Linked DNA regions of Homo sapiens. The protein of the gene in region 1 purifies or fractionates together with the protein of each later gene. This does not show direct contact. Each region holds a gene or a part of one and is shown in the gene's direction. Other genes may lie near its edges.

The links.
Region 2: the proteins of NFKBIB (region 1) and RASAL2 purify together in Homo sapiens (affinity purification with mass spectrometry; 2 studies listed by BioGRID and IntAct, with this or other methods). This does not show direct contact.
Region 3: the proteins of NFKBIB (region 1) and POLR1E purify together in Homo sapiens (affinity purification with mass spectrometry; 5 studies listed by BioGRID and IntAct, with this or other methods). This does not show direct contact.
Region 4: the proteins of NFKBIB (region 1) and HNRNPM purify together in Homo sapiens (tandem affinity purification; one large-scale study listed by IntAct). This does not show direct contact.
Region 5: the proteins of NFKBIB (region 1) and RPS6KA4 purify together in Homo sapiens (affinity purification with mass spectrometry; one large-scale study listed by BioGRID and IntAct). This does not show direct contact.
Region 6: the proteins of NFKBIB (region 1) and RELB purify together in Homo sapiens (affinity purification with mass spectrometry; one large-scale study listed by BioGRID and IntAct). This does not show direct contact.
Region 7: the proteins of NFKBIB (region 1) and LYZ purify together in Homo sapiens (tandem affinity purification; one large-scale study listed by IntAct). This does not show direct contact.

What each region holds. Positions count from the first base shown.
Region 1 is NC_000019.10:38,902,969-38,906,178, forward strand, and holds part of NFKBIB (NF-kappa-B inhibitor beta), read left to right. Parts: intron 1-2,046; coding exon 2,047-2,152; intron 2,153-2,233; coding exon 2,234-2,567; intron 2,568-3,210. UniProt on the Homo sapiens protein: Inhibits NF-kappa-B by complexing with and trapping it in the cytoplasm.
Region 2 is NC_000001.11:178,454,104-178,457,603, forward strand, and holds part of RASAL2 (ras GTPase-activating protein nGAP), read left to right. Parts: intron 1-343; coding exon 344-545; intron 546-2,596; coding exon of another isoform or gene 2,597-2,617; coding exon 2,618-2,796; intron 2,797-3,500. UniProt on the Homo sapiens protein: Inhibitory regulator of the Ras-cyclic AMP pathway.
Region 3 is NC_000009.12:37,499,448-37,502,947, forward strand, and holds part of POLR1E (DNA-directed RNA polymerase I subunit RPA49), read left to right. Parts: intron 1-1,392; coding exon 1,393-1,474; intron 1,475-2,265; coding exon 2,266-2,397; intron 2,398-3,500. UniProt on the Homo sapiens protein: Component of RNA polymerase I (Pol I), a DNA-dependent RNA polymerase which synthesizes ribosomal RNA precursors using the four ribonucleoside triphosphates as substrates.
Region 4 is NC_000019.10:8,447,975-8,451,474, forward strand, and holds part of HNRNPM (heterogeneous nuclear ribonucleoprotein M), read left to right. Parts: intron 1-3,500. UniProt on the Homo sapiens protein: Pre-mRNA binding protein in vivo, binds avidly to poly(G) and poly(U) RNA homopolymers in vitro. Involved in splicing.
Region 5 is NC_000011.10:64,369,162-64,372,715, forward strand, and holds the end of RPS6KA4 (ribosomal protein S6 kinase alpha-4), read left to right. Parts: intron 1-284; coding exon 285-458; intron 459-537; coding exon 538-732; intron 733-1,063; coding exon 1,064-1,223; intron 1,224-1,401; coding exon 1,402-1,565; intron 1,566-2,121; coding exon 2,122-2,319; 3' UTR 2,320-3,054; downstream 3,055-3,554. UniProt on the Homo sapiens protein: Serine/threonine-protein kinase that is required for the mitogen or stress-induced phosphorylation of the transcription factors CREB1 and ATF1 and for the regulation of the transcription factor RELA, and that contributes to gene activation by histone phosphorylation and functions in the regulation of inflammatory genes.
Region 6 is NC_000019.10:45,032,464-45,035,577, forward strand, and holds part of RELB (transcription factor RelB), read left to right. Parts: intron 1-70; coding exon 71-286; intron 287-1,780; coding exon 1,781-1,849; intron 1,850-1,987; coding exon 1,988-2,065; intron 2,066-3,114.
Region 7 is NC_000012.12:69,347,209-69,351,180, forward strand, and holds the start of LYZ (lysozyme C precursor), read left to right. Parts: upstream 1-1,172; 5' UTR 1,173-1,200; coding exon 1,201-1,336; intron 1,337-2,899; coding exon 2,900-3,064; intron 3,065-3,972. UniProt on the Homo sapiens protein: Lysozymes have primarily a bacteriolytic function; those in tissues and body fluids are associated with the monocyte-macrophage system and enhance the activity of immunoagents.

The sequences.
Region 1 (3,210 bases):
AGAGGCAGGAGAATCGCTTGAACCCGGGAGGCGGAGGTTGCAGTGAGCTGAGATCACGCCACTGCACTCCAGCCTGGGCAGCAGAACGAGACTCCATCTCAAAAAAACAAAACAAACAAACAAAAAAAGAAAAAGAAAAACAAAACCAAAAAGAGAAACCATATGACCTACAAAGACTAAAATAGTTATCTGGCTCCTTACAGAAAAAGTTTGCTGACTCCTGCTGTAGGGTTGATAGTTTACAACTTTAGGTTATCATGGGCTACCTTAAAGTGATATTATGCCATTTCACATAGAGTAAAAGAAATTTATTTTATTTTATTATTATTATTTGAGACGGAGTCTCACTCTGTTGCCCAGGCTGGAGTGCAGTGGCACGATCTCAGCTCACTGCAACCTCCATTTCTCAGGTTCAAATGATTGTCCTGCCTCAGCCTCCTGTGTAGGTGGGATTACAGGCGCATGCCACCATGCCTGGCTAAATTTTTTTTGTATTTTTTGTAGAGACAGGGTCTCATCGTGTTGGCCAGGTTGGTCTCAAACTCCTGACCTCAAGTGATCTGCCCGCCTTGGCCTCCCAAAGTGCCAGGATTACAGGTGTGGGCCACCGTGCCCAGCATAATGAACTGTTTTAATATTCTTGTTTGCAAATTCTAACATCTCTGTCATTTCTGGGTCAGTTTCAATTCACTGATGGTTCCTATTATGGATCATGTTTTCCTGCTTCTTTACATGCCTGATAATCTTTGGTTAGGTGCCAGACATTGTGAATTTTGCCTTGTTAGTCTGGAGAATTCTGTATTCCTATAAATATTCTTGAGGCCGGGCGCCGTGGCTCACACCTGTAATCCCAGCACTTTGGGAGGCCAAGGCGGGTGGATCACGAGGTCAGGAGTTCAAGATCAGCCTGGCCAACATGGTGAAACCCTGTCTGTACTAAAAACTGCAAAAATTAGCCAGGTGTGGTGGCACGCACCTGTGGTTCCGGCTACTCGGGAGGCTGAGGCAGAAGAATCGCTTGAACCCAGGAGGTGGAGGTTGCAGTGAGCCACGATCGTGTCACTGCGCTCCAGCCTGGGCGACAGGGCAAGACTCTCTCTCAAAAAATAAAAATTAAAATAAATAAATAAATAAATAAATAAATAAATATTCTTGAATATTATTCTGGGATGGAGTTAAATTACTCGGAAGTAGTTTGAGTCTTTCCAGTTTTGCTTTTATGATTTGTTAGGTGGGTGTTGAGCAGTGCCCCATCTACAGTTAATTATTCCCCACTATTGAGGCAAGACCTTCCTGAGTATCCCACCCGATAGCCTGTGATGATGTTTTTCCAGCCTGGCTGGTGGGAACACTCACTATTCCTGGCCCTGTGTGAGTAACGAGCACTTTTCTGAAATCCTTTTGGATGGTTTTCCCATCCCCACAGACTCACAGGCATGGCTGATCCGTATTCTCCGGAATACACAAGAGAACCTCCTGCAGTTCCCCAGCAATCTCTCCTTTGGCAACTCTGTTTTGTACTCTGTCCTGTGACTCTAGCCACGCTGGCCTCCACAGACTCTTCCTCCATATCCATCTCCTGACCTCAGACAACCTGATGCGCTCTGCTTGGATTCCCCTCTCTGCACCGTGGCTTTGAAACTCTCTCAAGACAATAAGCTGTGGCAGTCAAGTGTGGGGCCCACCTCGTGTTTCCTGTCTTTCAGGGGTCACTGTGATTCATTGCACGATGTCCAGTGTCTTCAACACTGTTGCTTCATATACCGTATTTCGTCTGACTCTTGTTTGTTTGTTTGTTTGTTTCACGTGGGAGTGAATTCTGGTCCATGTTACTTCATTTTGGGCAGAAGTGGAAATCCCACTGAATAAACATTGATTCCACGAATTTGCTGATGAAACTCTGACCTCTGACCTCCCAGATAGCTGACAGGGGGTTCCAGAACTGTGGTCACAAGGCCTAGCATACAGTAGGCGCCCCATGTTTGTTCAATGAAGGAATGCAAGAGGACTTGAACTTTGCCCTCTCACCCCGGTCTTTGTCCCCAGGGCACTGCACTTGGCTGTGATTCATCAGCATGAACCCTTCCTGGATTTTCTTCTAGGCTTCTCGGCCGGCACTGAGTACATGGACCTGCAGAATGACCTAGGCCAGGTGAGCCACGAGGGATGGTGTAGGGCTTGGGGTCCAGGGTTCCCAGTGTGACTCCCTACCGCCTGTCCTCTGCTTCTGCAGACAGCCCTGCACCTGGCAGCCATCCTGGGGGAGACATCCACGGTGGAGAAGCTGTACGCAGCAGGCGCCGGGCTGTGTGTGGCGGAGCGTAGGGGCCACACGGCGCTGCACCTGGCCTGCCGTGTGGGGGCACACGCCTGTGCCCGTGCCCTGCTTCAGCCCCGCCCCCGGCGCCCCAGGGAAGCCCCCGACACCTACCTCGCTCAGGGCCCTGACCGTACTCCCGACACCAACCATACCCCTGTCGCCTTGTACCCCGATTCCGACTTGGAGAAGGAAGAAGAGGAGAGTGAGGAGGACTGGAAGCTGCAGCTGGAGGCTGAAAACTACGAGGGTGAGGGTCGTCACCAGGGAAGGACTCAGCTCCTGGGCTAGGCGAGAGCACCTGGCCCTGGGCTCAGCTTCCCTGATTTGAGACTGAGCTCCTTGGGAAATCATGCCTAGGCTTCAGGAGCCCACACATCGGGACCAGGGACCTCCACTCAGGGCCCAGATGATTGAGAATTGGATATGTAGGACCCAGGACCCCCACCTGGAGGCCCCAGGTCACTTGGGATGCAGACCTGTCACCCACAGACCCAGAGCTGCCAGGATCCAGTTGTCGGGCCCCCGGGCTCCCCACCTGCAGAGTGTATTGCAGACCCCTACCCTACCCAGGACCGGGGAATGCAGAGCTCAGGCCCTCTGTGAAACTCTGGCACCCCAGGCTCCCAGCAATGGGCAGCAGGGTTCAGAGACAGCCCTCCTCAGCCTCATGGGAAGAAGGGCTCATCTGCCCACAGCCCTGACATCCAAGTTTCTGCTCCCCTGCCTATAAGCCCAGCCACCTGAGACCAGACCCCTCCTCAGATGGACTGACGTCATTCAGGACCCAGTGTTCAGGGCCTGCCTCTCGCCCCCAGGTCACAGGCTTTTCAGCTACTTGGTACCTTTTTTTTTTTTTTTTTTTTTTTTGAGACAGTCTCACTCTGTTGCCA
Region 2 (3,500 bases), on another chromosome or scaffold:
TTTGTAGAAGCTAGCAGTATTGAAGGTTTGTACTGGTGAGCTTTTGGTAGGTAAGTGAGGGCTATATTGCAGAGAAATTTAAATCCCAGAACTAAAAAAAAAAAAAAAAAAAGGAGTTTTGGCTTTACCCTTTAGAGAGAATAGAAAGCTATTCTCAAAGCATTAGAATATTAAAGTGATATTAAGAAAGTATGTTATAACATTTATCACTTATAGATAATAAACAAAATTAGTCATTCCCTCCACAAAATAAAAAAAAGTAATAGTTCTGTGTAATGTCAAATCAAAATGATCATATCTCTCTTGAATATGTTCTTTCTCATTTTCTCATCCTCTACTTCAGGTTTGGTAACAAAGAGGAATACATGGCATTCATGAATGATTTTTTAGAACATGAATGGGGTGGAATGAAGCGCTTTCTTTTGGAGATCTCTAATCCAGACACCATCTCAAACACCCCAGGCTTTGATGGTTACATTGATCTGGGCCGAGAGCTTTCAGTTTTGCATTCCTTACTGTGGGAAGTAGTTTCCCAACTTGATAAGGTAAAGTAGGTTGGTGGAAGATAGAGAACTTTAATGTACCTGAATTCTGGAAAGTAACTATAGAGTGATAGCACTCACTCTTTCTGCTAATTGAAAGCAACTGTTTACCCTAGAAATCTGAGAGTAAATGGTCATCATTTCTGAGTAAAATATGAGATCGACAACCATGAAACTCTAGAAAACCATGACATTATTAATATATGTTTTTAATAATTATCTGAATTAATGGAGTATATTTCTCTAAATTTATATATACAGAGTGCATATCTGAAAACTTGACTAGAAACTAATATATTGGTATATACAGCCTTATGCATGTCTAATAGGATAAGATGAAACCTCATATAGTAATTTCTAATAAAAGTATAGATTTAGCTAAGAAAATACTAGGTTTATCATGTTTTAAGTAACTACCCATGAAACAAATTTTTTTACTATACAAGTCATAGAGTTTCATATAATTATTAGTGCTAACAGTCATTGTTTTCTTTCTTTACAGATGTGAATTAAGAATACAGAAAGCAATTATTTTTAATCGTTTGCTAAGAATTTTATTATATACCGTATTAATAAGTAAATATACACCATGCCAATCATTTTCTTCCTTCTGGAATTTAACAAAAAGGAATAGATTTGGTAGTAAAAAATAGTCTAAAAGACGTTGGCTAGGCTTATTACAATAATTATTTATTGATGTTTTTGTTTGCTACAGGCACTTTATAAATATGTGTGGTGGTATGTTAGAATAACTTCAAAAGACAGTCATTTTTCTATGATAATGATCTACTTATTTTCCTCTATTTTCCTATCAATAAAAATGCTATATCAGTAAAATTTGAAGGGGAATAAAACCTATTAACAAAGACCACTTTGCTGAGGAAACATATGTGGTAATGTGTCCTCCAGTGCTTAAAATATTTGTAAAACAATAAACTGTTCCTTATTCTCGAGGACCTTTTCTTCACTTTTAGAAATGCTAGCTAGATTTTTAAGTTGCAGCTATGCCAAAGATAAACCCTTTTCATGTGAATCGTAGCCCAACATTATTGAGCAAGTAAAGGCCTTGGTGGCATCTATCCCTGTTTGAGTAGGGTAGAAGAGTCTGTTGATTGTTGAGAAGGCAAAGACCCAAAGGCAGCTATGCCAAACTGACTGACAGTTGAAGGGGACCCCTAAGACCCCATGAGAATAAGAATTCCCTAAATAAAAAAATGATTGAAATGGATAAAGCAAGTATTAAAGAGTTCGTCTTTGTTGAATAACTGCATCTCAGTGGAATGCAGATTCAGTTTTCCTGTGAAATGGGCCTGGTTTATTCAGGATCAAAGTCTTTTTAACGGGCTTTGCTATGTAAACACACTTTCTCCTTTTTAATCTGTGTTTGGTCCTGGGAACCAGGAATACATCTAGACATATCTCATAGAGGAAGTTTACCTGATTTTGCTGTTAAATTAACAATAAAAATTGTCTTACTGATGGAAACTCAGTTGGCAGTGGGTCAGGGTTCCCAAGATTGACTGGGATAGTGGATGGCAGTATCATCTGTGTGCCCTGCAGTACTCTGGATTCCTGAATGAGCACCTTCTTATATGTTGGCATGCATTTCTTTTCTCACATGATCCCTTTTCTTTGAAAGTTTATCATACTAGTTGATCCTCTGATCTTGAAGTTCTTTTGGTTAGAAGGAATTTGGTTCTGCCTCCACCCTCCCCCACCTTGATCTACTAGCCTCCCAAAGATTTAGTTTGCTTCGCATGCCTATTTTAGTTGGAATGGCATTAGTTTGGTAGTTTTGAGCATGTCTTTTAATTTTTACTTGCATAATCCTGATTTCGATTTCCTTTCTTTCCTCGATGTCTGCCGCACCTTGTTTCGCCTCCTCCATTCATCTCGACGCCATGGTTCTGCTGCTCCATAACAATGCATTATGAACCTGCCACTCCCATATGCAAACACTTACCCTTCCCTCCAACCTACACCCCTCCATCAATGGCCATCGTTGTGCCAAAAACAATCTGTGGTGGATGTCGCAATGCTTATTATCCAATTAGGGTGAAAATTCCTTCCTACAGGCGACCGTGGCAAAATTGGGGCCTCTCCCTCGTGTTCTTGCTGATATTACCAAGTCATTGACTAATCCTACGCCAATACAACAGCAACTGAGACGCTTCACTGAACATAACTCCAGTCCAAATGTCAGTGGAAGCCTCTCCTCTGGGCTGCAGAAAATATTTGAAGACCCCACTGACAGGTATGAAAGAGAGAATTTGACCACTATCTCGGAGAAACATAATGTTTAGATTTAGCAGAAGTATATTCAACCTATTTGTTGAATTTACAAGTTTAAAATCATGAGCAACTGAAGACTCATCTGACCTGAGAGCAGTCCAATTATTTGTCATAATAATGCACAAGATCTGGGATGACTTATTTTCTAGAATGGTAGTATAGAGAGTTACAATATATTCCACAAGCATATTTTTAAAATTTCTGTCTTGCTTAGTGGAAGACTAAAGGCTTTATGAAATTCATGTTTCTGTACGTTATAGCATTCAAAATCTTGGAGAACCTCGGTTAAAACCATTTTATAGCTGGCTATGTCAACTGGACAGGTAGATACAATGTCGATGCTTAGACTGTTTTAGGGATTGGCAAGACTTGTGCCTTTTGCAGGGACCTTTCAGTTGTGTGCTTAGAACTTCTTCTCTTGAAGGTTTAGACAAGTAAGTATGAATTGGAATATTTGGGGAAGGTTTAAAACCTAACTAGGAAATTATTGGAATCCTGGTTAAAACTGAAGACAGTGATGGGTTGGTATCTACAGTGTTATTCTGTACCTTTGGGGAAAAAGTAAAAATGCTGGATTTTATTCTAAGCATTGTAATAATTCCCTAATTAGATAAAATCTGAGTTTCCAAAGAAATGTACGTATCCACATAAGAACCTTCGGAGGAG
Region 3 (3,500 bases), on another chromosome or scaffold:
GGCCTGTCATTGACCAAAACACTGTAATGTGGGACATGACTGTATTTGCTTAGTCATGCTTTTTTTGTTGTTTTTTTGTTTTGTTTTTGTTTTGTTTTTTTTGAGACAGTATCTCGCTCTGTCACCCAGACTGGAGTGCAGTCCCATGATCTTGGCTCACTACAACCTCCATCTCCTGGGTTCAAGCAATTCTGCCTCAGCCTCCCGAGTAGCTGGGATTACAGGCGGGCACCACCACGCCCAGCTAATTTTTGTGTTTTTAGTAGAGACGGGGTTTTTCCATGTTGGCCAGGCTGGTCTCGAACACCTGACCTCAGGTGATCCACCCTCCTTGGCCTCCCACAATGCTGGCTGGGATTACAGGCGTGAGCTACTGCACCCAGCTTGTATTTGCTTAGTTCTTTTTTTTTTTTCTTTTTTTGAGACAGAGTCTCGCTCTGTCGCCCAGGCTGGAGTGCAGTGGCTCGATCTCGGCTCCCTGCAACCTCCACCTACTGGGTTCAAGGGATTCTCCTGCCTCAGCCTCCTGAGTAGCTGGGATTATAGGCGCCCGCCACCACACCCGGCTAATTTTTGTATTTTTAGTAGAGACGGGGTTTCACCATGTTGGTCAGGCTGGTCTCGAACTCCTCACCTCATGATCTGCCTGCCTTGGTCTCCTAAAGTGCTGGGGTTACAAGTGTGAGCCACTATGCCCAGCCAGTTGTTTTTTGTTTTGTTTTGTTTTGTTTTGTTTTGTTTTGTTTTGTTTTTTTGAGATGGAGTCTCACTCTATTGCCCAGGCTAGGGTGCAGTGGCGCAATCTTGGCCCACTGCAACCTCTGCCTCCTGGGTTCAAGCAATTGTCCTGCCTCAGCCTCCCAAGTAGCTGGGATTAGAGGTTTGCGCCACCATACCTGGCTAATTTTTGTGTTTTTAGTAGAGATGGGGTTTCACCATGTTGGTCAGGCTGGTCTTGAACTCCTGACCTCAGGTGTTCTGCCTGCCTCGGCCTCCCAAAGTGTTGGGATTACAGGCGTGAGCCACCGCGCCTGGCCACTTAGTTCTTATTTTCACATTCCAATTCCACCTTTCCCCCTCTCTCCCTGAGCTTTCAGCACAATTTTTGTTTTCTAAGGTCATGTTAACTCTGGGTCCTTAGGCCTCAGGCTGTGTTTTCTTGTCATTGCCCCATCACCAGCATCTCTCGTGCAGGGCAAACTGCAGGCTGCAGCACACCAAGCATGTTTTCATTTTGATGTGGCTGTTCTGCTTTGTGTGGGCCCTGCTTCTCTTACCACCTGGTTCTGGTCATTGCAGTGGCCCAGCTGTTGGCCTTTTCTCTTAGCTCATGGTTGAGGTGTGGCCTGAGGGTTTTGAGAGAAAATGATCAAACTCAACTTTGTGTTGTAGGTGCTCTGGGACCTGGAGTTCCCCACATCATCAACACCAAACTGCTGAAGCACTTTACTTGCTTGACCTACAACAATGGCAGGTCAGGGGGTGGTTGCTGGGATTTTTCTTGTGCAGGAGAAAGTAGGTGGGGGTTGGGAGTGAGGAGCAGGGGCTTGGACTCAATTCCATGTCCACGGAGATGCAGTGCTGAAAAGACTGCTGCCATTTGGAAGGCTCCTGGGGCCCCAGTAAGTTTAGCAAATGCTAAATATGACATACTCTGCCCTTCTTAGAAAAGTATTACCTTTTGGGAACCTTAGAAGCTCTGGGAAGTCCTACAATAAAGACTTGTTTTACTTCACATACTTTTGAATAGCCCTTCCCGATGTCTCACAGAGCTGGTGTTCTGCGGAAAGGCAGCATTGCAGAAAAGGGCAGCCCAACTCGGTGACTCTGGGGAAAGACCCGCAGGCCCTGCCCCTGGGCTTCCTTCCTGCCATTTGCATGGCGTGTGTTTTCTGCTCTTGAGTGTGCTTGGAAGAATCAGCACAGCTGATTTCGGGATGATTGTTTTCCCAGCAGCCCTGCTGGGCAGGCGGGGACAGACTCACAGGGCCCTCACCAGCTCAAAGCGCTAGCAGTGCCCAGGTAGAGTGTAGGCCCAGCTTTCTCTATCTGCCTCAGAGGGAAACATGGACTGGCACACTGCTCCACTGTGTGTGAGGCCCAGGAACCTTGGAAGGGCAAAGTCACCCACATTCCTTTTCCTTTCCTGAAGTTGGGAAGACATTCCGTGCATATGAGAATAGGATTGGATGTTCTTATTTTGCTTTTGGAGAAATTGTCTGAGAGTTTAATTTTGTTTCTCCTTTATTGCCACTGATTTTCTAGATTACGGAACTTAATTTCGGATTCTATGAAGGCGAAGATTACTGCATATGTGATCATACTTGCCTTGCACATACATGACTTCCAAATTGACCTGACAGTGTTACAGAGGGACTTGAAGCTCAGTGAGAAAAGGTGAGCACAACAGAATAAAGAGCTCCCTGCAGGGTGTCTCGATGTCTTATTTCTGGTACCACTGGAAAGCATGAGGCACCACCAAGGGAACTGAGGATGTTTAAATGTGGGAACAACTTGGAACTAAAGGACTATTTTCAATGAATGAATCATTGACTGAATGAGCAACTAGACATTACTGAGTGCCTTCTCTGTGCTAGATAAATTATGTCATTATCTCACTGATTTCCCTAGAAAACAATTGAAGAATCAGGCTCAGAAAAGTACGTAACATTCTCAAGGTTACACAACCAAGAGGGGAGTAGTTGGCCTTGAGACCTGAGCCTTTCCATAACATTCTGTTCTGAATAACCAGGCAGCCTCCATTCTCTGAATTGCTGTCACAGGGGAGAGGGATTCTGTATGGTTCTGAGGAGTGCAGCTCAGGGTGGAAGTTGTAGGACAACCCAATTTGAGCTTAGTAAGAAGAGCTTCCTCACAATCAGATGGAAGGGTTTGCCAGGGGAACCGCTGGTTCCAAGGCCAGGTGGAACTGCTGTTTGGCAGGGATTTTATGTTTGCACTTCTCTGACCCAACTGGGAGAGCTGGTGGTGGAGGTGACCTTTTAGGCTCCATCTAGCCTTGTAGAGGAGATTCAGACAGTAGGGGCAGAGCTGCCCAGGAACCTGAACTGTGAGGTCAGCTGATCTTTGTCAGTGATTTAGGGGCATCTGACATCCAGTGGCCCAGAGGGTGTCTAGGAGAGCCTGTGAACACACCTCTGTCTGGACTCTCTAGCAGTCCGTGGAGGGACTGTTCTGAGGGCTGTCCACAAACTGTGTTCCCACAGGCAGTGAGGCTGAAAAAAAGAGAACAGGTACTTGGAACCTGTCAGATTCTAGCAAGTGCTCAATCCTGGTTGCTAAAAGTTTGGTTATGGGAGGTAAAGAAAGTTGCTCACGGGGCTGTAGATACCCTGGTTTTTCATCACCCATATGGATCTTTTGAAGGGCATTAAAATGAAATTGGCTGTCTGATGGTTCCCAGCGGGTGAGGGGACCTTGCCTGCCTCTCTGCCAGGGGCTTTGTGCCTGCTGGCAACCTTTGGGATTCTGTCTTTATG
Region 4 (3,500 bases), about 30 Mb from region 1:
GAGATTGGGCCACTGCACTCCAGCCTGGGCGACAGAGCGATACTCCTTCTTCAAACAAACAAACAAACAAGAACACTGAAGTTGCTATAGAGTTTTAAGGTTGGAGCACTGGCAGCCAGCTGATGGGCAGTGAATTTGGATTTTTATCTTGAAAGCCTTTGAGAGACAGGAGAAAAATAGAAACTTGGTTCTTTGGAATTCTTTCTCTACCAGGAGTGGAGTGTGCAGTAGACCACAAATGCAGTGAGCTAGCAAGCTTGATCTGGGAACCCAGGTTGGAAATCTTGTTTTGCAGTTACTTCTCTCCTGGGTGTGAGAATAGGATTTGCTTAATTTTGATGAGAAGTCTGTTCCAATTAAAGTCAGCAAAGATTCAGAGTTAGGGTATAGTCAGGGAAAAAAAAGTTCATTTTAGGGGAATGTATAGGTTTTTAAAATTTTTTTAAATGTAGTATCATATATAAAATAAATGACTTAACCTGCTCCCCTTCCTGAGTAATTTTTTTTTTTTTTTGAGATGGAGTCTCGCTCTGTTGCCCAGGCTGGAGTGCAGTGGCGCGATCTCAGCTCACTGCAAGCTCCGTGAACCGCTTCCCGGGTTCACGCCATTCTCCTGCCTCAGCCTCACGAGTAGCTGGGACTACAGGCGCCCGCCACCATGCCTGGCTAATTTTTTTAATATTTTTTTTTAGTAGAGATGGGGTTTCACTCTGTTAGCCAGGATGGTCTCGATCTCCTGACGTCGTTATCCGCCCGTCTTGGCCTCCCAAAGTGCTGGGATTATAGGCGTGAGCTACCACACCTGGCCCCTTCCTGAGTAATTTTGTGGGTGAATAAGAAACAGATGGATTGGTTATTTATAAAAATAAAAATATATATTTAGGGTAGATTCCTGAGGAGGTACTGTTAGAGTTGACTCCATTTGACAATCAAGAAAACTTTCGTTTTAAACACTTAAACCCAGGTTCAGGAACCTGACCTAAAGACTCCAGGGGAGGCCCTCCTGACTCCCAGGCAGCTTGCTGCTTTCATGATACTACCTTGGTAACCACTCAGTAAACAGCCGTTTGAATTGTTTTATTTAAATCAGATTCTCTATACAATGCATTTGAGTGTTTGCTGTACTTTAAAGAGTGATTGTTTATTCAAAAAGGATTTTGGAGACACGTCAGATTGTGAGCTCAAGATTAGAAGACAGGGTTTTGGATTATTTGAATGCATGCTGCCAGGCCTTTGCTTTCACTCAGCTCTTTGATTTTATTCTGGTTAGGGAAAGAGATACTAGCCTGCAAAGATTAGCTTGCTTGTTTTTTTGGGAGGGGGGGTTCTCCAATGGACTTCCCCATTACCATATTTTGCAGTCATAGGGTTGAAAGCTAAATTGTCCCTTTGCTAGTCTGTAATGATTATGATGCCTAGGTTTTCTCAGCCTTGGCTCTGGTTTGCTAGTTTTAAAGCCTGAACAGTAGAAGGCTAGGAGTGAATCAGTCCCCCTCTCTACCCTTCTCAATAAAATTATTGGTAGAAAAATACATCATTGCCTCACTGTGTGCTAAGAGTCTCTTTTTTTTTTTTTTTTGAGACGGAGTCTCGCTCTGTCGCCCAGGCTGGAGTGCAGTGGCGGGATCTCGGCTCGCTGCAAGCTCCGCCTCCCGGGTTCACGCCATTCTCCTGCCTCAGCCTCCCAAGTAGCTGGGACTACAGGCGCCCGCCACTACGCCCGGCTAATTTTTTGTATTTTTAGTAGAGACGGGGTTTCACCGTTTTAGCCGGGATGGTCTCGATCTCCTGACCTCGTGATCCGCCCGCCTCGGCCTCCCAAAGTGCTGGGATTACAGGCGTGAGCCACCGCGCCCGGCCTAAGAGTCTCTTTTAAAGCTGTAAGCGTGTAGGTAGTAGCCTCCATAGGACCGAGGCCTAGTGACGACATGGTGACCCCAGCTCTTAGCCACATGCAGTACTGCTTCCCTAGATGAGCTGCTTTTTGTTTTGCCATTCTTTGTTGATTGTCACAGTGTCCCTCTGAGCTACCATGCATACAGGTTGCGCTGGTTTTGCTGGTAAAGCGCTAGAGACAGAAAGAGCTTGAGTCATGTGGGTAGTTCAGTGGTGGCCTTGGAGCTGGAATGGTGCTGTGAATAGTGCTCTCCACACCTTACATGCATTAGAGCAGCGCAGGACTTGAGGGATTTCTGTGAAGAATCACTTTATATAAGGGATGGTTCTCACACGGGCAGAGGGGTCCTTGTCCCTCAGGAGATGTGATCACAATTTCAGGGTATTGGGATTGCCATTTCAAACTGCACCCTTTCCTTGATTAGAAACTCCAAAAGTAGTGAGTGTTACGCATGGGAACTGCATGGAGACCTTAAGAGAGGGTAGGCAGTCACTATTTGGTGGTGGTCTTTTGCAGATTAGGCACTCAATCTTTTTATTAGGGTTTTTTTGTTTTTTGAGATGGAGTTTCACTCTTGTCCCTCAGGCTGGGGTGCAGTGTACGATCTCTACTCACTGCAACTCCAGCTCCTGGGCTCAAGCGATCCTTCCACCTCAGCCTTCTGAGTAAATAGGACCACAGGCACATGGTACCATGCCTAGCTAATATTTTGTAGAGATGGTGTTATACCATGTTGCCCAGGCTGTTCTTGAACTCCTGAGCTCAAGTGATCCGCCCACCTTGGCCTCCCAAAGTGCTGGGATTACAGGCATTAATCGTATTTTTAATTTAATTTAATTAATTATTATTATTATTATTTTTTTTTTTTTTGAGATGGAGTTTTGCTCTTGTTGCCCAGGCTGGAGTGCAGTGGCGCTATCTCACTTCACTGCAACCTCCGCCTCCCGTTCAAGTGATTCTCCTGCCTCAGCCTCCCAAGTAGCGAGTAGCTAGGATTACAGGCACCCGCCACCATGCCCGGCTAATTTTTGGTTTTGTTTTGTTTTGTTTTTGAGACGGAGTTTCACTCTTGTCGCCCAGGCTGGAGTGCAATGGCATAATCTCGGCTCACTGCAACCCCCGCCTCCTGTGTTCAAGCAATTTTCCTGCCTCAGCCTCCCGAGTAGCTGGGATTACAGGCGCCTGCCACCACGCCCAGCTAATTTTTGTATTTTTAGTAGAGACGGGGTTTCACCATGTTGGCCAGGCTGGTCTCAAACTCCTGACCTAAGATAATCCACCTGCCTCGGCCTCCCAAAGTGCTGGGATTACAGACGTGAGCCACCGTGCCTGGCCTAATTTTTGTATGTTTATTAGAGACAGGTTTCCACCATGTTGGCCAGGCTGGTCTTGAACTCCTGACCTCAGGTGATCTGCCCGCCTCGGCCCCCCAAGGTGTTGGGATTACAGGTGTGAGCCACCGCGCCCAGCCAAAAGTTAAAAAGACTTGCAGAGTTAAGTTTTTATATGTACGTATACATATACATGGACTAGAGAAGAATCTTCCCCTAATTTTGTCCTGAAGATAGTGAGAAAATAGGATTGGACATGTTAAAAAAAGAGC
Region 5 (3,554 bases), on another chromosome or scaffold:
GCGCCTGTAATCCCAGCTACTTGGGAGGCTGAGGCACGAGAATCGCTTGAACCCGGAAGGCAGAGGTTGCAGTGAGCCGAGGTGGTGCCACTGCATTCCAGCCTGGGCGACAAAGCGAGACTGTCTCCAAAAAAGTAACAAAGAAAGAAAGAAAGAAAAAGGACTTTGAGGAGGGGGTTCTCGAACATTGGCAGGGCCCGAAGGCCGGGGGCGGGGCCTGGGTGGTGGGAGGGGGCTTGCCGCCGTGGGTGGGTGTTGACCTTGGCCCGCCACGCCGCCCGCAGCTGCACACGTACCTGGTCCTGGAGCTGCTGCGGGGCGGGGAGCTGCTGGAGCACATCCGCAAGAAGCGGCACTTCAGCGAGTCGGAAGCAAGCCAGATCCTGCGCAGCCTCGTGTCGGCCGTGAGCTTCATGCACGAGGAGGCGGGCGTGGTGCACCGCGACCTCAAGCCGGAGGTGGGCGAGCTGCCTCGGCGGCGGGGCGGAGCGGTGGCGCCGGGGGCTGCCTCTGACCACTACCCCGCCGCCCTCGCAGAACATCCTGTACGCCGACGACACGCCCGGGGCCCCGGTGAAAATCATCGACTTCGGGTTCGCGCGGTTGCGGCCGCAGAGTCCCGGGGTGCCCATGCAGACGCCCTGCTTCACGCTGCAGTACGCTGCCCCCGAGCTGCTGGCGCAGCAGGGCTACGACGAGTCCTGCGACCTCTGGAGCCTGGGCGTCATTCTGGTATGGGACGCGGTCCTTGAGGCGGGGTCAGGGTCGCTCGGACCTGGCGTCTTCCTGATGTGCAGCAGCACGAGGGAGGGGACAGGGGTCATCTTGGTGGGGGCGGCTGGGTTTCGTCCGAAGCTGGGATCGGGGTGGTTCAAATACAGAGGTGGGGTCGCTCTGGTGCTAGAGTCGGAGCATCCGGGTATTGGGGGTTAGAAGTCAGGGTTCACCACGCGTGGGTCTCAGGAGTGCCCCTAGTGGGGAGGGTGAGTGGTTCTGTGGGAGCGGAGGGGTCAGCCTCGGCACCCCAGCCTGGGCCGGCCTCACCTTCCCCTCACCCTCCTAGTACATGATGCTGTCGGGGCAGGTCCCCTTCCAGGGGGCCTCTGGCCAGGGCGGGCAGAGCCAGGCGGCCGAGATCATGTGCAAAATCCGCGAGGGGCGCTTCTCCCTTGACGGGGAGGCCTGGCAGGGTGTATCCGAGGAAGCCAAGGAGCTGGTCCGAGGTGCGGAGCTGGAGGTCATAGACCATGGTTGGGGAGGGGGACGCTGGGACAGGGATGGTCACTGGGCCAGGTGTCCTGGTTGGGGATGGGTAGGGGAGGAGAGTGGGGCTGTTACGATCTCTTTGGGGCTCAGCCTTTACGCCAGGCTCCTCCCCACACTTCCTTGCCCCGCCTCCAGGGCTCCTGACCGTGGACCCCGCCAAGCGGCTGAAGCTCGAGGGACTGCGGGGCAGCTCGTGGCTGCAGGACGGCAGCGCGCGCTCCTCGCCCCCGCTCCGGACGCCCGACGTGCTCGAGTCCTCTGGGCCCGCAGTGCGCTCGGGTCTCAACGCCACCTTCATGGTAAGGGGCAGGGTCTGTTGAAGGGAAGGGGTGGGCGAAGCCTCGAGAGGTGGGGTCTGGGGAGGCCCGGCCATCGGAGCACAGAAAGGCGAGGTGAGGCCGGGCGCGGTGGCTCACGCCTGTAATCCCAGCGCTTTGGGAGGCCGAGGCGGGCGGATCACGAGGTCAGGGGTTCGAGACCAGCCTGAACAACATGGTGAAACCCCGTCTCTTCTAAAAAGAGAAAAATTAGCCGGGTGTGGTGGCGCGCGCCTGTAATCCCAGCTACTCAGGAGGCTGAGGCAGGAGAATCTCTTGAACCCAGGAGGCGGAGGTTGCAGTGAGCTGAGATTGCACCACTGCACTCCAGCCTGGGCGACAGAGGGAGACTCCGTCAAAAAAAAAAAAAAAAAAAAAAAAAGGGAGGTGAACCGAATCCGGTGGTCGGTCTGGAGGCCAAGGCCCTGTCGGCCTTGACCTAGGCGGCTGGAGGCAAGGTCTGGGAATGGAGGTCAAACTAGATCTGGAAGCCGGGGTCAGGCGGGGGTGGGGGCACTCACCCTTTCCTTTCTGCCAGGCATTCAACCGGGGCAAGCGGGAGGGCTTCTTCCTGAAGAGCGTGGAGAATGCACCCCTGGCCAAGCGGCGGAAGCAGAAGCTGCGGAGCGCCACCGCCTCCCGCCGGGGCTCCCCTGCACCAGCCAACCCGGGCCGAGCCCCCGTCGCCTCCAAAGGGGCCCCCCGCCGAGCCAACGGCCCCCTGCCCCCCTCCTAATCCCCACCACTGTGACCCCCTTCCCTCATAGGGGCTGTGACCTGGGAGCCCGGCTCACTCCCGGAGGCCTCTGCCTGCGGCTGACCTGATCCCCAAGGGACTGTCCTTTCCTCTCCTACCCCACCCCACTCCCAGACAGAGCAGAAGTATTTTTATAAGCAGAGAATTTTTTATGTCTTACCAGATAGAGTTGCAGGGAAGGGGGGGCCTGCTGGGGAGTGGGGTTTGGGGGGCCCTCTCCCAGGACACTGCCTCTTCTGGGCAGAAGGCCCCTCCAGGGGGACTGCTCCAACAGGAAAGAGCCCCTCCCCCACTTCTAAGCACTGAGTTAGGAGTGCTAACTCCTAAACTGGGACCCCCTACCCTGTTCTCCCCTGAGGCCCCGTTCCTGGGAGGGGCACCCCTCAACTGTCACTTTATGGACTGTCTGTGCAATTACGTCCACCAAAGACCCGTGTTGGGGGTACTGAAGGAGAGGCCCTGGGGGACCCTCTGAAGCATTTCTGCCTCACTTTATGTCATCTGCTTCTCCCCTGTTGGGGCTAAGGAAGGAGATAGGTGGCTCCTAAAAGAGGAGGCCATCTTCTCACCCACCCCTTCCTCTTTGGCACAGCTACTCCTGGCTGGGGGTGGGGCCTTGGGGGTCTGGGCTGGGCATCCATGGTCACTGCCTCAGCCCAGCCAGGCTGTGCCTTTGACTTTAAAATAAAAGTCCACCCAGTGCTGTGTGTGGCATCTGCGTGTCCTCGTTCGTGTTGTGGGTGTCTAGAGCAGAGATTCTGGGCAGACAGGCTGCTAGCCCGTGGAGTTTGGAACCTCAGTGGGGAGGGACAGGCAGACTCTTCTGGGCAAGAAGATATTCTTTGTTCCTTGACTTTTGCTATGAGCAGGAGGGCGCAACTCTCATCCTGGGTGTATATCCGGACAGCTCTGCTGGGTATCATTTAGGATATTCTTGGTTGTAAATACAGCTGCTGCTTGACTTAGGGTGGACCTACATCCCGATAAACCCAACCTGAATAGAAAATGCTGAAAGCCGAAAATACATTTAATGTCTGCAACACAGCAGACGGTGCCTGACTTAGGATTGTTTGATTTACCGGCTTTCAGCTTTACCATGGTGCCAAAGCGATAGGCTTTCAGTAGAAAACATAAATAAATGGTAAGGAGCTTCCTGACTTACGATGGGATTACCCATCGTAGGTCGGAAAATTCGTGTCAAGCATAAGTCAGTC
Region 6 (3,114 bases), 6.1 Mb from region 1:
AGGCTGGGCAAGTTGGGAGCACAGTGGTCCAGATGTCCTGGCTTAGCTGATGTCCCCCGTTTCCTGCCAGAGGACATATCAGTGGTGTTCAGCAGGGCCTCCTGGGAAGGTCGGGCTGACTTCTCCCAGGCCGACGTGCACCGCCAGATTGCCATTGTGTTCAAGACGCCGCCCTACGAGGACCTGGAGATTGTCGAGCCCGTGACAGTCAACGTCTTCCTGCAGCGGCTCACCGATGGGGTCTGCAGCGAGCCATTGCCTTTCACGTACCTGCCTCGCGACCATGGTAACTACAGCAACCCAGGGTGACCCACCACCTCGGAGACTAGGTCTTTGGCCTTGGGGAGACCCCAGTGGGGATGGGAAAGAGGCAGAACTAGAATGCAGGCTCAGAGCTACAAAGACAGTGTTCAGATCCTGGCTCTGCTGCTTACTGGTTGTGTGACCTTGGCCTCTCTGAGCCTCATTCTTCTGTGCAAAATGGAAATAATAGTAGCTGTCCTGTGACATTTGGAGAGTATTTAATCTTTCCTCCCCTCAGCATCCTGCACATGCCCGGGCCTGTGCTCGGTATTGCTAGAGACACAGCAGTGACCAGCACGGCCCCTAGCTGTGTCCTCATGAGGCTTATAGTCCTGAGGATAGGGGACAGCCTGTCCCTACAGAGTGATGACCAGAGTGGGCAGGACTGGAATGAAGTGCTCAAGGGCTCACATTGCCCAGAGGGGGTACCTGACCCAGCTGTAGGTGTCAGGGAATGCTTCTTGGAGGAGGGGACAGCTGAGCTGAGGACAGGAGGATGACTAAGCAGGGAAGTTTTCTAGGGAAATAGTGAGAGTGGAGGAAGAGTGCTTTAAACAGCTGGAACAGCAGGTGCAAAGGTCCTGAGGCCGGATTGTGCCTGGGGTGCTCCAGGAACAACAAAGAGGCCAGTGTGTAGGCCGGGCGCAGTGGCTCATGCCTGTAATCACAGCACTGTGGGAGGCTGAGGCAGGCGGATCACCTGAGGTTAGGAGTTCGAGACCAGCCTGAACAACATGGCGAAACCCCGTCTCTACTAAAAATACAAAAATTAGCCGGGCGTGGTGGTGGGCGCCTATAGTCCCAGCTACTCGGGAGGCTGAGGCAGGAGAATTGCTTGAACCCGGGAGGCAGAGGTTGCAGTGAGCCAAGATTGTGCCATTGCACTCCAGCCTGGGCAACAGAGCAAGACTCACTACAGGCACCCGCCACCATGCCCGGCTAATTTTAGTATTTTTAGTAGAGACCGGGTTTCGCCGTGTTGGTCAGGCTGGTCTCGGACTCCTGACCTCAGGTGATCCGCCCACTTCAGCCTCCCAAAGTGCTGGGATTGCAGGAGTGAGCCACCACGCCCAGCCAAGACTCCATCTTTAAAAAAAAAAAAAATAGGCCTGGCACAGCAGCTCACACCTGTAATCCCAACACTTCGGGAGGCCAAGGCAGGCAGATCACTTGAGGTCAGGAGTTCAAGACCAGACTGGCCAACATATAGTGAAATCCCATCTCTACTAAAAAAATACAAAAATTAGCTGGGCGTGGTGGCGCACACCTGTAATCCCTCCTACTTGGGAAGCTGAGGCAGGAGAATCACTTGAACCTGGCAGGCAGAGGTTGCAGTGAGCCAAGACCGTGCCACTGCACTCCAGCCTGGTCAACAGAGCAAGACTGTCTCTAAAAATAAATAAATAAATAAATAAATAAAGGAATTAATTATTATTGATGAATTACTTCTTGTGTGTCCCTGGTATCTCCTTAACAGACAGCTACGGCGTGGACAAGAAGCGGAAACGGGGGATGCCCGACGTCCTTGGGGAGCTGAACAGCTCTGGTGTGTGCCCTCTGCCCCTTTCCACCCCCATCCCCAGGTTCTGGGGAGGGGACAGCTGACCCCACTGCCCTGTCCCACCCCAGGCTGGGGAGGAAGGGCTGTCGGGGAACAGGGGTCCTCATCTCTGCCTTCCCTCAGACCCCCATGGCATCGAGAGCAAACGGCGGAAGAAAAAGCCGGCCATCCTGGACCACTTCCTGCCCAACCACGGCTCAGGTGGGTCCCAGCTACACATAAGCCCCTGTCCCCTGGGTGGGCAGAGGGTAAGTGGCAGCCCTGCTTTTCTGGCCTCTTCACGCCCTCCAAGAGCAGCCACAAGGCGAGTCACTCAGCACTTAGCCAGCAACATAGAGTAGAAAGAATGAGGGCTTTGGAGACAGAATGGAAGTTCTGATCTCTTCTGGGCCATTTCCTTGCTATGTGAACTTCATTAAGTTGTTCTACCTCTCAGAGCCTCAGGGACTCCTTTGAAAAGGCCCAGTACATACTTAGCTCAGTGGTGTTTTAAAATTTGATCTATTTCTTCTTTCTTTTTTTTTTTTTTTGGAGATGGAGTCTCGCTCTGTCGCCCAGACTGCAGTGCAGTGGCATGATCTCAGCTCACTGCAACTTCTGCCTCCTGAGTTCAAGCGATTCTCCTGCTTCAGGCTCCCAAGTAGCTGGGACTAAAGGCATACACCACCACACCTGGCTAATTTTTGTATTTTTTAGTAGAGACGGTGTTTTACCACATTGGCCAGGCTGGTCCTGAACTCCTGACCTCAGGTGATCTGCTTGCCTCAGCCTCCCAAAGTGCTGGGATTACAGGCATGAGCCACTGCATCCCACCTATGATCACATTTAACTGCATTTACAGCAAAACCCAAAATAACAGGGGCTTCAACAGGATAGAACGTTATTTCTTGTCTCACATACATAGTCTGTAGGGACTGAAAGTGGCTCATGCCTGTAATCTCAGCACTTTGGGAGGCTGAGGCAGGTGGACTGCTTCAGTCCAGGAGTTTGAGACCAGCCTGGCCAACGTGGTAAAACCCTGTTTCTACTAAAAATACAAAAATTAGCCGAGTGTGGTGGTGCACACCTGTAGTCCCAGCTACTTGGAGGCTGAGGCAGACAAATCACTTGAACCCAGGAGGTGAAGGTTGCAGTGAGCCAAGATTGCACCACTGCACTTTAGCCTGAGCAACAGAATGAGACCCTTCTCAAAACAACAACAACAACAACAACAAAACAGGCCTGGCACTGTGGCTTACGCCTGTAATCCC
Region 7 (3,972 bases), on another chromosome or scaffold:
AAGGGTAACTACAAAGTGATGACACTTTGTGTGGCTCAGAATCTGTCCTCTTAGGCAGATACAGAAGTGCAGTTCTTTTTGAGTTCTGGTAGCATTGTTTTAAAAGCTGTGCACAGCCTCCTGAGATTGCTATTTTCAAAGGTAGCATTTAGTTGGATATATGTTTGGGTAGGTTTTATTTTTAAAATGCTGTTGCTTTCTAATGACCCCTTATGTTCTAATATGGAAAGGGGAGGCAAAGTATTGTGAAAAGTAGTTGGTAAAGTAGGCCGGATGTGGTGGCTCACACCTGTAATCCCAGCACTTTGGAAGGCCGAGGCGGGCGGATCACGAGGTCAAGAGATCCAGACCATCCTGGCCACATGGTGAAACCCTGTCTCTACTAAAAATACAAAAATTAGCTGGGCATGGTGGTACATGCCTGTAGTCCCAGCTACCTGGGAGGCTGAGGCAGGAGAATTGCTTGAACCCGGGAGGCAGAGGTTGCAATGAACTGAGATTGCGCCACTGCACTCCAGCCTGGTGACAGAGTAAGACTCCATCTCAAAAAAAAAAAAAAAAAGGTAGTTGGTAAAGTTGTTCACATGAACCTTATTTATAATAGTAAAACACTGATTTATAATAATAAAAAATTTGCTATAGTAACAAAAAGAGTCTAGAGTAAGAAACTAGCTGAGCAACGTGGTGTCACACTATACACCCATTAAGACAACAGGCACATGTGTCATGTCCATTTTGTGGAAAAGATATGTAAAATAATTTTAAGTAAAAAAGATAAATATAAAAAAGTGAATGCATACAAAACAATTTCACAAAATTGAATGTTACTCAAAAATCACAGCTCATTTTAAGCTGCACAAAATAGTCATTTTTTTCTTTATAATTGCTCAAATTCATAATCAAACAGAAGAAAGTTCCTGTCTTGGAAGTAGTGCTATGCCCCAATTCTTCCAGAGCCAGTACTTTAAACAATTCCATTTCATTATTTTCCTGTAGACTAATTCTTAGGACATCAGCATATCTCTCTTCAAGCATTAAAAAAATCTCTTTAGAGTCAGTGGATCAATAGACAGTTCCTGTTTTCCACACAACTGAAAGGGTGGAGCCCCCAAACCACAAGGGGAAGAAGGAAGTTAAAAGATGTTAAATACTGGGGCCAGCTCACCCTGGTCAGCCTAGCACTCTGACCTAGCAGTCAACATGAAGGCTCTCATTGTTCTGGGGCTTGTCCTCCTTTCTGTTACGGTCCAGGGCAAGGTCTTTGAAAGGTGTGAGTTGGCCAGAACTCTGAAAAGATTGGGAATGGATGGCTACAGGGGAATCAGCCTAGCAAACTGTAAGTCTACTCTCCATAATTCCAGAGAATTAGCTACGTATGGAACAGACACTAGGAGAGAAGGAAGAAGAAGAAGGGGCTTTGAGTGAATAGATGTTTTATTTCTTTGTGGGTTTGTATACTTACAATGGCTAAAAACATCAGTTTGGTTCTTTATAACCAGAGATACCCGATAAAGGAATACGGGCATGGCAGGGGAAAATTCCATTCTAAGTAAAACAGGACCTGTTGTACTGTTCTAGTGCTAGGAAGTTTGCTGGGTGCCTGAGATTCAATGGCACATGTAAGCTGACTGAAAGATACATTTGAGGACCTGGCAGAGCTCTCTCAAGTCCTTGGTATGTGACTCCAGTTATTTCCCATTTTGAACTTGGGCTCTGAGAGCCTAGAGTGATGCAGTATTTTTCTTGTCTTCAAGTCCCCTGCCGTGATGTGGGATTTTTATTTTTATTTTTATTTTATTTTATTTTATTTTTAAAGACAGTCTCACTGTGTGGCCCAGGCTGGAGTGCAGTGGCATGATCTCAGCTCACTGCAACCTCTGCCTTCTGGGCTCAAGTGATTCTCGTGCTTCAGCCTTCTGAGTAGCTGTGACTACAGGTGTGTACCACCACACCCAGCTAATTTTTTGTATTTTCAGTACAGATGGGGTTTCACCATGTTGGCCAAGCTGGTCTTGAACTCCTGGCCTCAAATGATCTGCCCACCTCAGCCTCCCAAAGTGGTAGGATTACAGGTGTGAACCACTGCACCCAGCCGACATGGGATTTTTAACAGTGATGTTTTTAAAGAATATATTGAATTCCCTACACAAGAGCAGTAGGAACCTAGTTCCCTTCAGTCACTCTTTGTATAGGATCCCAGAAACTCAGCATGAAATGTTTTATTATTTTTATCTACTCTACTTGATTAACTATCTTTCATTTTCTCCCACACAATTCAAGATGTGCCATGAGGAAAAGTTATTTTATAGTTTAGTACATAGTTGTCGATGTAATAATCTCTGTAGTTTTCAGATTGAATTCAGACATTTCCCCTCAATAGCTATTTTTGAATGAATGAGTGAAGGGATGAAATCACGGAATAGTCTTGTTTTCAAGATTCTAACTTGATATCCAAATTCACCTTTAGATATTATAAGAAAATTTCTATCAGAAAATCCTTATGTTTTTCTGATTAAAAAAAGCATTTTTCCATCAGCCTATGTATCTGCTATGAATTTACAAAATCTACTCAACAGCTCTGTTGATTTTTCTGTTCTTGGCTGAATGTTGCCTGAGGGATGGGAGCACGGGAAGGGTAAAAGCAATGGAACAAACATGTATTTTAATATTTTAAAAGTATGTTATATTGTTCGTTGGTGTTACAAGATGATTTGCATTACAAAAGGATTCTCTTACAAGTCCCTTATCTTAACACTAAAGTGCTAAGATATTTTATAAGTAAATCTTTATACTTATAAAACAAATCAGTAAAATAGAAGTAGCTAAGTAGAACTGATTTTGCTATAGAGTATAAGTCACTTAGTGTTGCTGTTTATTACTAAAAATAAGTTCTTTTCAGGGATGTGTTTGGCCAAATGGGAGAGTGGTTACAACACACGAGCTACAAACTACAATGCTGGAGACAGAAGCACTGATTATGGGATATTTCAGATCAATAGCCGCTACTGGTGTAATGATGGCAAAACCCCAGGAGCAGTTAATGCCTGTCATTTATCCTGCAGTGGTAAGACAAGCTAATATTTGACCAATCTGGTTATACTTACAAGAATTGAGACTCAATACAAATGAAAAAGCCTTGAAAGGTTCATGAGGGACCTAGAAAAACTACATCTCAACTTCCAGAAAGTCATTATTATTTTCCTCATAATTCCCTGAGTAAGAAATTAAAGAAGTGGTATCATAAAAGGTTGATGTTTTTTAATATACAGAAGTTTCTGGAATGACCTATTAATTTACTGTCAATGGCCTTACTGATGCTTTGTCCAGAACAATGCCATTGCTCCTGCTTACTTTGGGGAGGTTTTGGGATAATTTAGTTGTATGGTCCTTTTTCAATTGTTTTACTTTTTTTTTTATGAAATGTTCTAAATGTATAGAAAATTAGAGACATTAGTATAATAAACAGCCATATGCCCATTATGCACTTTAAAAGTTGTTAACATTTTGCCATAGTTGCTTCTTCTATGCCTTTTTTTTTTTTTTTTTTTTTTTTTTTTTTTTGCTGAGAGTTTTTTGTTTGGTTTTGTTTTGTTTTATTTTGAGACAGGGTCTCCCTGTCCCCAGGCTGTAGTGCAGTGGCACCATCACAGCTCACTGCAGCCTCAAGTGATCATCCCACCACAGCCTCCCAAGTAGCTGGGACTACAGGTGTGCACCACCATGCCTGGCAAATTTTTGAAATTTTTAGTACAGGCAAATTCTGTGTTGCCCAGGCTGGTCTTGAACTCCTGAGTTCAAGCAATCTTCCCACCTCAGCCTCCTTAAGTGCTGGAATTACAGGCGTTAGCCACTGTACCTGGCTACTGCTGAGAGACTTTTAAGTGAATTAGGAACATGATGATATTCCATTTCTAAATTCTTTAGTTTACATCTTCAAAAAATACAGTTCCTGTAGAATTATTATTGTAAATA